Linked DNA regions of Homo sapiens. The protein of the gene in region 3 purifies or fractionates together with the protein of the main gene of each other region. This does not show direct contact. Each region holds a gene or a part of one and is shown on either strand. Other genes may lie near its edges.

The links.
Region 1: the proteins of TRPM8 (region 3) and PCNX3 purify together in Homo sapiens (affinity purification with mass spectrometry; 2 studies listed by BioGRID and IntAct, with this or other methods). This does not show direct contact.
Region 2: the proteins of TRPM8 (region 3) and CHAMP1 fractionate together in Homo sapiens (co-fractionation; one large-scale study listed by BioGRID). This does not show direct contact.

Annotation. Positions count from the first base shown.
Region 1 is NC_000011.10:65,625,665-65,629,316, reverse strand, and holds part of PCNX3 (pecanex-like protein 3), read right to left. Parts: coding exon 3,573-3,652; intron 3,414-3,572; coding exon 3,263-3,413; intron 2,643-3,262; coding exon of another isoform or gene 2,617-2,642; exon of another isoform or gene 2,420-2,616; intron 2,414-2,419; coding exon 2,269-2,413; intron 1,913-2,268; coding exon 1,735-1,912; intron 723-1,734; coding exon 614-722; intron 499-613; coding exon 369-498; intron 1-368.
Region 2 is NC_000013.11:114,317,475-114,321,126, reverse strand, and holds part of CHAMP1 (chromosome alignment-maintaining phosphoprotein 1), read right to left. Parts: intron 18-3,652; 5' UTR 1-17. UniProt on the Homo sapiens protein: Required for proper alignment of chromosomes at metaphase and their accurate segregation during mitosis. Involved in the maintenance of spindle microtubules attachment to the kinetochore during sister chromatid biorientation.
Region 3 is NC_000002.12:233,944,740-233,948,391, forward strand, and holds part of TRPM8 (transient receptor potential cation channel subfamily M member 8), read left to right. Parts: intron 1-1,116; coding exon 1,117-1,291; intron 1,292-2,348; coding exon 2,349-2,416; intron 2,417-3,652.

The DNA.
Region 1 (3,652 bases), on a different chromosome or scaffold from region 3:
TGAAGAGAGGGTGCACCCTGCTCATGCTCTCCCTGTGCCACAAGGTCAACGCCATCCAGGACAGCCCCGTTATGCAGGCAGATGAGGAGACTGAGGCTCAGGTACATGAAGGGACTCACACAGGACACACAGCCAAGAAGCTGGGAGGCTAAGCTCATCCCCAGACCCCACTATCCCCAAGCTGTGAGCCTGAAGCCTTGGCCTGGTGCAGGCTCTCCCTGCATTGGATCTGCCGCCTCATGTGTCCCCACTGTGACCAAGCCCTCCCATACCTGCTGTGGGCCCCTCTGTGGGTGGCCTCCAGCCTGGGCTCCAAACCTCTCCCTTCCTGCCCTGCTGGGCATGCTCCCGCCTCCTGTGAGACTCACTTGTAGTCGCGCTCCCAGAACTTGAGGGGCCGAGCGTAGGACATGATGAAGACGGCACTGCCTAGCAGTGGGTTGAGAGGCGTGGAGAAGAGCCCCGAGAGCAGGGCCTGGACGAACAGCATGGCCGAGTCTGAGCCACAGTCAAGGAGGCGGCGGGCAACAGGACCTCCCAGCCCCCCACCACCCCCCACTGCCCCAGGCCACAGCCCTCCCTGCACACCCCCACCCAAACACAGGCTGGATACGTGGCACGGCAAACGGCTGGGCAAAAGCGTGGAAAGCCGAGCCCCAGGTGATCTGCCAGGGCGCGATGTAGGTCAGCACGAAACGCAGCTTGTACAGCAAGTCCCACAGCTGGCAGGGCCAACAGGGAGAAGAAAAAAGACATGCAGGGTCACTCATGGAAGCCCCCGGATGCCAGGCCCCATTCAGAGGCTTGGGTCATCGCACTGGCTTGGCCCACGGGGGCCAAACTCAAGGTCACTGCCAGCCCTTGTGCTCTGGACATGGCTCAAGGCGCCTGATGCCATTAGCAACCCCTGCCTGAGCTCAAAGGGGGCGGTGGCCATTTAGTTCACACAAGTACCCTGTGAGCTTCTTATTCCTATTGCTGGCCCCTTTTCACAGATGGGAAAGTTGAGGTTCAGTGAAGACAGAGAAGATAAATGACTTCCTCAGGTCACGCCACTAGGTCACTGGTGAGGCTGAAGCTAGACTATAGTACTGAAAATTGAGAACAGCCACAGGCCCTGCCCTCAGAGGGTACGCAGTGTGGATGACCGCCATCCTGGGCCAGGCCAGAAAACAAGAACAGAATGCCCACGTGAGGAAGAAAAAGGCTCAGGCCTGCCTGGGGTTCCAGGTACCACTGCTGGCCTCCAGTAGAGTGTAGGAGCATGGTTCCTTAGTTCAAAGAGCCCCCCAAGCCGTGGCAATGCCACAGCCGGCAGAGCACCTATACACACCCAGGCACTAGGGGCTTCTGAAACTCAGCTCGGACTGCTCTGGATCCAGGGTGGCAAAAGAGCGTGGAACTCAGAGGTCTGCGTCCAGAGGATAAGGCCAGGTCCTGATTACCCTAACCATTTCTGAGGAGGTGGTCGTGGGGTCAGACAGGCCTGGGTTCAAATCCTGGCTGACCACCAATTCTCTGGAAGCCTGAGGCAAGTCCCTCAACCTCCTTCAGCCTGCTTCCTCTCTGTAGAGGGTGGAAGTAACCCCTTCCTTGAGAGGCTGCTGCAAAGGCCCACGGGGCTGATACAGAGCGGTGGCCACAGGCCCTCAGGAAATTCTCTTCCCACCCAGGCAGAAGTTGGCTCTGCTCCCATTGGACAGCCTGGGGTCTGGGCCACAGCCACCAACTCACCTTGCTGCAAAGCAGGGACATGAGGAAGTAGTCAAGCAGAAAGCCCTGGGAGAGGCGCGGGTAGTCAAAGTGGAAGAGCAGGACGGTGAAGGCCAACGTCAGGTACTGCTGTGGGGGGCAGCAGAAGGCTGAGCGCAGCAGCTTCAGCCCAGCCACGGTCATCAGCAGCGCCCGGCAGCTGTGGGCAAGGGGCAGGCATCGGGTGCTTGGTAGGGGACCGGGGCAGTGGGTATAGGTGTCCCATCCCTCGCCTACTCTGGCCGGAGAGCAACCCCTGGCCTCTGCTCTGCTGGGCTGGTCCCTGCTCTTTTGGGCCCGTGACTCTTAGTCTCTGCTCTTCCAAAGGGAGTGGTGGGAACACATTTGCCTTTGAAGAAGCAACCACTTCCTGGGATGGCGTGTCAGGAGCTGGGGTCCTGCTTTAGCTTGCTAAACAACCTTAGACATGATTCATTCCCTCTCTAGGCCTCAGTTTCCCCACGGATCAAAAGGGAAAGCGGATGATGGGATCGTTGAGGGTGGGGTGGTCCTCACTAGAAGCAGTACTTGTCCGGGTGGCTGACGACTGTGTGGGCGTCCACCGTGAGGGCGTTGAGCACCACGGCGGGGTAGATGAGGTACTTCTCTACGCACTGCAGGCCAGCATACAGCTTCTCAAACCACATCACCTGGGCGGCACCTGTGTGGAGAGGCCAGGACTCTGCACCTGGCTTCCACATGCCTGCCTTCCCTGAGGAAGTCCTTCCCTAGGAGGGCAGGCTGTGCGGTCCTGACTCCTCGGAGACCCTGGGGGGAGGGGCTGATCTGTGGCAGCTCAAATGGGAGCAGCGAGCCCCAGCAGGGCAAGGGCTCCACATGGCACTTAGCACATCGAGGCTTGCTTTATGGCAGGTGCTCTGCTCTGCTGTCTGTTAAAACAAGGCCAATGATGAAATCGCAAACACCTACGTACAGCAGGCTGGCTAGGGCCTGAGTGCACAGTGAGCCCGTGAGCTGGGCCCTTCTAAAGGGCAGACCCCTCGGTTCAGGCTGGTTGTAGCCACAGAGGGATGCTAGTCTGGGAAGCAAAATCTTCTGTCGTTTAAGAAAAACTCAAGAAACATGGATCTTCATATCTCAAATCGAGATGCTAAAATAGAGGCTCCAGGATTTTTTAAAAACCATTATGCAGCCCAGTGAAGATGTGCTCCAGGCAGCTCTGGTCCACTGGTGATCAGTGTTTAATTCTGGACAAGAGATCCCTTCAGGGCCCTGGGGTTCTAATTCTTCCGTCTTCTCACAGACAGGAAGGAGGGCAGGACCAGGGCAACACAGGCAAGGGAAGGGCACAGCAGGGCACGAGGAGAAGAGTCGGTGGAGAGCGCAGCCGGGCAACACGGACACAGAGGGCAGGGAGGGAGCAGAAAGGGTAGTGTGGGCAGCGAGTGCCCCCTGCTGGCACTCCTGAGCCGAGAGGACCACAGCTCCCACCAGCCAGGCTGCAGCCCGAGCCACTGCCCAGGCCTGGCCATCAGGGGTGGGCACTCACCGCGCACTTCATACTGGCTGTACTCCAGCGGCTTCAGCACGGGCTGTGACAGGCAGAACCAGGGCAGCTGTTTGCGGAGTTGTGGCAGCAGGTAATGTGTGAAGAAGCCCACGGCCCCAGCCAGTGCGTACAACACGAAACCCAGCACCGACTGCAGGAGGGAGAGGCCAGAGACTCAGCTGATGGGAGCAGGCCAAGGGACCACAGAGGGCCACCTGGCACAGGCCGGGGAGGGGCTGCCCACGGCACTCAGATTGAGCAGGCTCCCGCCAAGACAGCGAGAGGCAGCAGCGGCCCATGCCACACAAACCTTCAGGGCAATAAAGACGGTGCTGGCGCTGATGGCGAAGGTGAGCACGGCGATCACCACACACATCACCAGGTCGGAGT
Region 2 (3,652 bases), on a different chromosome or scaffold from region 3:
AAGATGAGAAGTTGAACCTGGAAAAAAAAAAAAAAAAAAAGAAAAGTAATCAAAACTATATCTGTGATCGTGTGTGCCCCCTGTAATGGAATTCTGTGTATTTCTCTCACCATCCTGCCCTAACAGTGAGAGGAGTCCAGTCCACTAAGCCTGCTTACTTTTTTTTTTTTTGAGACAGAGTCTTGCTCTGTCGCCCAGGCTGGAGTGCAGTGGCGCGATCTCGGCTCACTGCAAGCTCCGCCTCCAGGGTTCATGCCATTCTCCTGCCTCAGCCTCCTGAGTAGCTGGGACTACAGGCGCCCGCCACCACGCCCGGCTAGTTTTTTGTATTTTTAGTAGAGACGGGGTTTCACCGTGTTAGCCAGGATGGTCTCGATCTCCTGACCTCGTGATCCGCCCGCCTCGGCCTCCCAAAGTGCTGGGATTACAGGTGTGAGCCACCGCGCCCAGCCCGAACACTTACTTTTATGAAATGACACCAAAGACTACAGTAGATACCACTCCTGACACCATCCTTGTCTACTTTCTCTTTAATGATCCACTATGGAATTATGCCCGTGTGTGTAATCAAATCCTTCTCAAACCCACCACCTAACTTCACTTCTCTGATAAGCACTCAGAAGACTGCTGGTGTGACTACTGACTATAACAATGGCTGACTTTTGTCAATTATTGATATTACACAGCAGAGTGCCAAATTAACAGGCAGTGGAGGAAGGGACACCACAACAAAGAGGACCAAGAGGCACAAAAAGAAAGGACTCTGGGAGGAGCAGGATGGCAGTGTCCTGACCCCAAGGAAGAACACATGGACCTGCTTCAGTGATTGCTCTGCCCTCTTCTCTTCCTGCATGCATTTCAAAGATAAAGCATCATGGTGTGGGTGAGTCTGCTGACAGGAACAGAATGTGATAAACTGGCCATGCACAAGCTACACAACAGCTCATATTATGCTTCTGATTAGCTCCAGCACATTCATCTACCCCTTCTCTATCCCCTACCCCTATCACTGCTTTAATTCTGACATCTGAACTCCCTGCCACTAGTCTCCTTTTCTTCCAACCCATTCATCGTACAGCTACCAAACCTGTCTTCCAAACAGAAGCCTAATGTGATCTGCCTGTTCACATGTCCTCCAAGTCAACTAAGACACCTACAGTATACAATTTGAATATGGCATATAAAGCTCTTCACAGTCTGGCCCATGACCAGACTGCATTCTCAAAATACTGGCCCACATGTAACTCCCTGACTATTCCAGCGTCTGTGCATTTGTATAAACTATTTCCTCTCCTTTACACTCCCTGTCTTGCCACCCGGCCATCAGGCAAACTCCTTCATCCTTCAGGCAGGACAGCTTTTTAAGTCAGCTGTCTTTCTGTAAACACAGGGACCTGGTTCCAGGACTTCCCCCATATGCCAAAATCCACACATACTCAGGTCCTACAGTCAGCCTTGTGGAATTCCCATATATGAAACATCTGCCCTCCATATAAATGTTTCACATTCTGTAAACGCTCTTTTTTATTGGCATTTGGTTGAAGTTCTAACCTCTGTTATTCATGAGTCAACTGTACTGGTCAATTCCCCACTTCTTCCCAATCTTCCTAGAAGCCCCAGCTGTACATGTCACCCTCTGGCACTACAGCCTGATACCAAAAACAGGATGCCAGCTCCTGGAGAGGAGGGACTATTATCCCTTTATTCACCTCTGGAACCGTTGCACATCCCTGACACACAGTATGTGCTCTGTTCAATCCTAACATTCTCTCAATCTTAGACTCACAGGATTTTAAAACTAGAGGAAACCTAAGTTACCATCTAGTCTCAAAGTCATAGGATTTGAGGGTAGGAAAAGACCTCAGGGATCATCTACTTTAAAACTTCAATTTATAGTTAAGGAAACTCAAGCTTGACATTAAACAGCTTGCCCAAATCAGACAAATGATCAGTATCTGATGAGAGAATAAAGTTCTGCTATCTGTCCAGGTTCTTTGTAGATATACACAAACTAATACAGTGGAATTTAGTAAGATCTTTTAAAGCCTGTACAATAGTCCAAAATAAACAAGATGAAACAAACACTTAGAATCCACATATCAAGTGCATAAATACAGGACTATAGAGAACTATATCCCATATTCTGCACTGGGCAGAGTACACTATTCCAGTGGATCACTGTCCCCAGCTCTGGGCAGGAAGGACACTTTAAGAGAGTCTCTAACAAACTAGGGAACATTAAAAAAAAAAAAAAAAAAAAAAAAAAAAAGGCAACCAGGATGGCAGATGGCCCTTTAAAAAAAAAAAAGTCATTTACAAATAAAGACATTTAACTTCAAAAGGGGAAGAATTATAGATAATATATGAGCTATCCTAGAAGTGACAATCAGAAGCTAGCAGGAAAAGAATTGTGGCTTAACACAGTTTACAATCTACTCTATCATGAACTAGAACGAGTTCCTTTGTCAGGTAGGAGTACTCCATAATTAGAATCTGATGATCAGGCCGGGTGTGGTGGCTCAGGCCTGTAATCCCAGCACTCTGGAAGGCTGAGGCAGGTGGATCCCTTGAGCTCAGGGGTTCAAGAACACCCTGGGCAACACGGCGAAACCCCGTCTCTACAAAACATACAAAAATTAGCCGGGTGCAGCAGAATGCACCTATAGTCCCAGCTACTCGGGAGCCTGAGGCAAGAGAAATCGCCTGAGCCTGAGAGGCAGGAGTTGCAGTGAACCAAGACTGCACCATTACACTCCAGCCTAGATGACAGAGTGAGACCCTGTCTCAAAAAAGAAAACCAAAAAAAAAAAAAAATGATGATCAGCATAGGACTAGAAGGATCTTCAGAGGTCTTGAGTTCAACCTCTTCATTTTATAACTGAAAAGACTGATGCTGAGGGAAAGAAGTGACCTGTCAAAGATCACAACACTGAGGTCAGAGGGAACAGTTTTTTTATTCTGGTTTTCTCAATTCTGGTCTCTGCTGTAACAAAATGCTGTCTTTCCCACAGTAGCAGAACGATCCACGAAGATGTTACAGAATTTAGTCCCAGAATTCAACTTTTAGGCAAAGCCTAGAGAGCTGGGCGTCCTTCCAGCTTTTAGGTTCTAGCAAAATTTCTTCCTAAATTTAAGAACTCCTAACCCTAACTAAAAATTAACTCAGAATTGTCCAGATTAACAAAAATTTCTTTTTGTCTTTGAGACAGATTACATCTCGTCTCTAAAAAACCTAAATTCTAATCATTGGTGCTCTGCCAGTCTATCACCCAGTATCCTTCAATGCAATGTTATGCCAGATGGTGTATCATACCTATTTCCCATCTCCCATTCAATTTCTTCTTTGAAGTCGAACACCACTGATCATCTTTTAAAACACATCTGATGCATAGTTTTTTAAATTAAAATTCAATAAGTAGAACATGTTCAAAGCTAAATGGGTTCTATTAGTCTATACACACTAGCATTGTTCTTTATCTTAGCGGACTTTTTTTCTTTTTTAGAGACAGGGTCTCGCTCTGTTGCCCAAGGTTTTGGTGCAGTGACGCCATCACAACTCACTGCAGCCTCATACTCCTGGGCTCCAGAGATCCCCCCGCCTCAGCCTCCTAAGTAGCTGGGACCATAGGTACCTGCCACCACATCTGGCTAA
Region 3 (3,652 bases):
ATACCTTTATTAGTAAAAATAAAAGTAATAAATAATTCTTTAATCATAATAACAAAACCTAACATTTATATAATAGCACTTACTATGTACTAGGTTCTATTCTAAGTGTATTACATATATTAACTCATTTGATGTTCATAACAAAACTATGAGGTAAGTACTACTATTCCCCCCTCATTATAAACGAGAAAAGTGAGGCATACAGAAAGTAAGAAACTTTCTTAATGCACATATCTAGTTAGTGGCAGGTTCATGGTGCACAATCTTTTAACCACTATAGTATTCAGATTAATAAATTTAAAAAATAGTATCACCAGCAAAACTCTGAATTCTTTCTGAATGCTATTTTTTCCTTCTGTTCTCCTTGAATTTTGGTGGTGATATTATTGTTCAAACTTATTAAATTCTATGTTTGGAGTTAAGATTGAAACACCTTTTAATGCAACGCTGATACTTTAAAACCTAAATGCCTTTGAATGGAGCTTGAGAGTGAGGAACCTTTTTGGTAAGGATTCCTTTCTTTATGTTCCTGAAGCAGTTTTTTATTCTCTGGTATTTTGGGAACAAAGTATCCATTTAATTACTTCTTTTTGTGGTCCTGTTGCTATGCGCTTCTCAAGTGCAAAGACTGTTTCATTCATTTTCTAATCCCTAGATCCTGGCATGGGTCACGGCATATGATAGATTCCAGACAGCTATGTATGTGTGCATTTCAATGTCTGCTTCTACCTGTATCCAGACACACACAAATACACACACACACACATTTGCACATACATGGTTTCCTGAATGCTGAATTTGAATTTCGTTGAATTTATGCAAAAGAGCACAGGGCAATGAACCAAGAATGGGACTGGGAATCTGATCCTTACACTGTCACTGGCCATTTATGAGAAAATGAGCACATGGCACAACCATTTTGAACTTCCATTTCCTCATATTTAAAAGGAAGTCTGTACTATAAGATCGCTAAGACCCCTCTGGATTTAGGAATCTGGGAGGAGGCATAATGTGATTGAACCCAAAGTATTAGCTTTCATATGAATATAGAAAAATATCATCATGTATCTTGACTGATAATACAATCTCAAAGACAAGTTTCCCTGTACTTTTCAGGGCTATTTTTTAGCCCAGTACCTTATGGATGACTTCACAAGAGATCCACTGTATATCCTGGACAACAACCACACACATTTGCTGCTCGTGGACAATGGCTGTCATGGACATCCCACTGTCGAAGCAAAGCTCCGGAATCAGCTAGAGAAGTATATCTCTGAGCGCACTATTCAAGGTCAGTGGTTAGGAGGTAGGACACTAGAAGTGTACAATAACCACAGCAGCCACAGCATCAACAACAATCACTACCAACTATTGAGTGATGCGTGAGAAACACACCTGATCAGGTATTTTTATTGCCAAAGAACTGTTATTTCTCTTAATTTTTCCAACACATCAGGAATGCTTCTGCCAGGGTCAATGTGGTATGTACCCTTTAACATGCTAAAGGCAATGATAAATACGGCCATCTTCCATTGTGGTTTGTTAGTATCAAAAGCTGGCTGTCTTCTTCTGGTAGATACCATTTAAGAACAAATACGATCTACAATGACAAATATGAGTTTATGAAACAACGCAATTAGCTAGGATAGAAAAGATAAAAACCAACCTGCTAGTTTAACAATGGTATGGTTTACTTTTTTGAATCTTGGCTACTTCTGAGTAACAGAAAACAGTGGTCTCAAGAGAAGAATGCAACAGTTGAGTGAAAGCCATTATTTGCCGTGGTTGAGTGACATGTACTCTCTCTCTTCCTGTGGACAGGGTATTGAGATGTGTCCTGCTGTGGAACAAGATTACCTTGTGATTTAATGATAGACATAATGACAGGAACTTGTTGGAAATGTTGTCAATTATTTTCCTTTCACAATTGGACATACATGAAAGAAGAAACTATATATGCAATAAACTGTTGAAAGACCACTAGTTATGCAAAGTTCTCACTCAAGCAAGCATAGGATTATAGGAAAGCATCATTATTATAAGGATAAACTTAAACCTAGTTTAATTTATAGGTGCAATGGTAAATCATGCACAGGCTTTCAGTATTCAAATATGTATTTTAAATATCAATGACAAATTGCAACATGACCCATGTCATGCTATTACTAGTGTGGAGCAAAAAGACTCATCCGTCTTTAATGAGTGGATAATGTTCAAGTCCGTGAGATGTGAAGCTATCTCTCCACACCCTAGGCTCACAGGGCAGAAGCTCTTGGTCCAACTTTTCACAGAGGTAGGTGAGTATTTCTAATGAGCTCAAAATATGCTTTACTTTTTATATTTTACAGATTCCAACTATGGTGGCAAGATCCCCATTGTGTGTTTTGCCCAAGGAGGTGGAAAAGAGACTTTGAAAGTGAGTCCTGATTTAGTTTTCTAGAAGGTTGGCTAATAAGCCTATCCAACAAATTTGTATTTTCAAGGATTTGGGCTCATCTAATCTAACCTAATTGATTTTACTGCAGCAAGTAGGTAGTGTTTTCCCTCCACATACTGTTCCCCTAACAGACTCCGGTTATTCCTCAGTCAAGAAGATTTGGGAGGAGAATTTCAGTGACATGAATAACCTGTGTACTTAGTGTTGGCCTTGACAGTCAACCTGCCAAAGAGAAGAGTTGACATTAATTCGGGAGACTTAAAGATTGTAACCGGCATATATATTAGAAAGCTATGGCCAACCTATCTGCATTGAGATGAGCTGTGATCATACACACACAGATTGCCCCCAAACCAGATGTTTCCAGACCACCTAAGGCCCATTTATATGCCACCTGGGGATGCAGGTATGTTGCATGATGGAATTCCAAACCCTAAGTGATTCTGAGATCATGGAAACTTCTTGAATGGTTCTGCACCTGCAACACTGAGCAACTGAGCAAGAATTTGACTTCCCAGCCAATCTGTATGGACTCATTACTGAGTTCATCTTGCCTGCAGTCAGGCTTCTGTTTGACGTTTTTTTGTTTTTGTTTGATAATCCACTTGAATCAAAACCTTTTATTTATTTATTTGTTTTTAACTTTTAGGGTCAGGGGTATATGTGTAGGTTTTATGTATAGGTAAATTGTATGTCACAGGGGTTTTGCATACAGATTATTTTATCACCCAGGTAATAAGCATAGTACCCCATAGGTAGTTTAAAAAAAGTTAGTGTGACTACATTTTAGTAAGTATTGTAAACAATTTTCAAGAGCTCATTTTTCTAGGAATAGCACATTACAAGAAAGTCATTTTTAACTCATCTTTTTCATGAATTTCCGCAATGATTTGCATATTCCTCCTTTTACCCATCCTATTTTACCTCTAAGACAGGGAATAGATTAAAGATACCTGGAGCTAAAAGTAAGTGCTGGCAAAGTTATCTGGAATCATCATCTAGTACTTCTCATTATTCTTTTATGTAACAATGGCTGTTTTCTTCATCCATTCAACAGATATTTATTGAGTACCCGCTATGAAATTTACAATTGAGATCATGGTTAAATAAAAATATTCAGGGAAACATTAAAATAGAGATTTTTTTTCAGTGTGTGATTGTCAGTGTATTAAAACCTTTTTATGCCTAGTGTTCCATTATTGGAACACTAAGCAT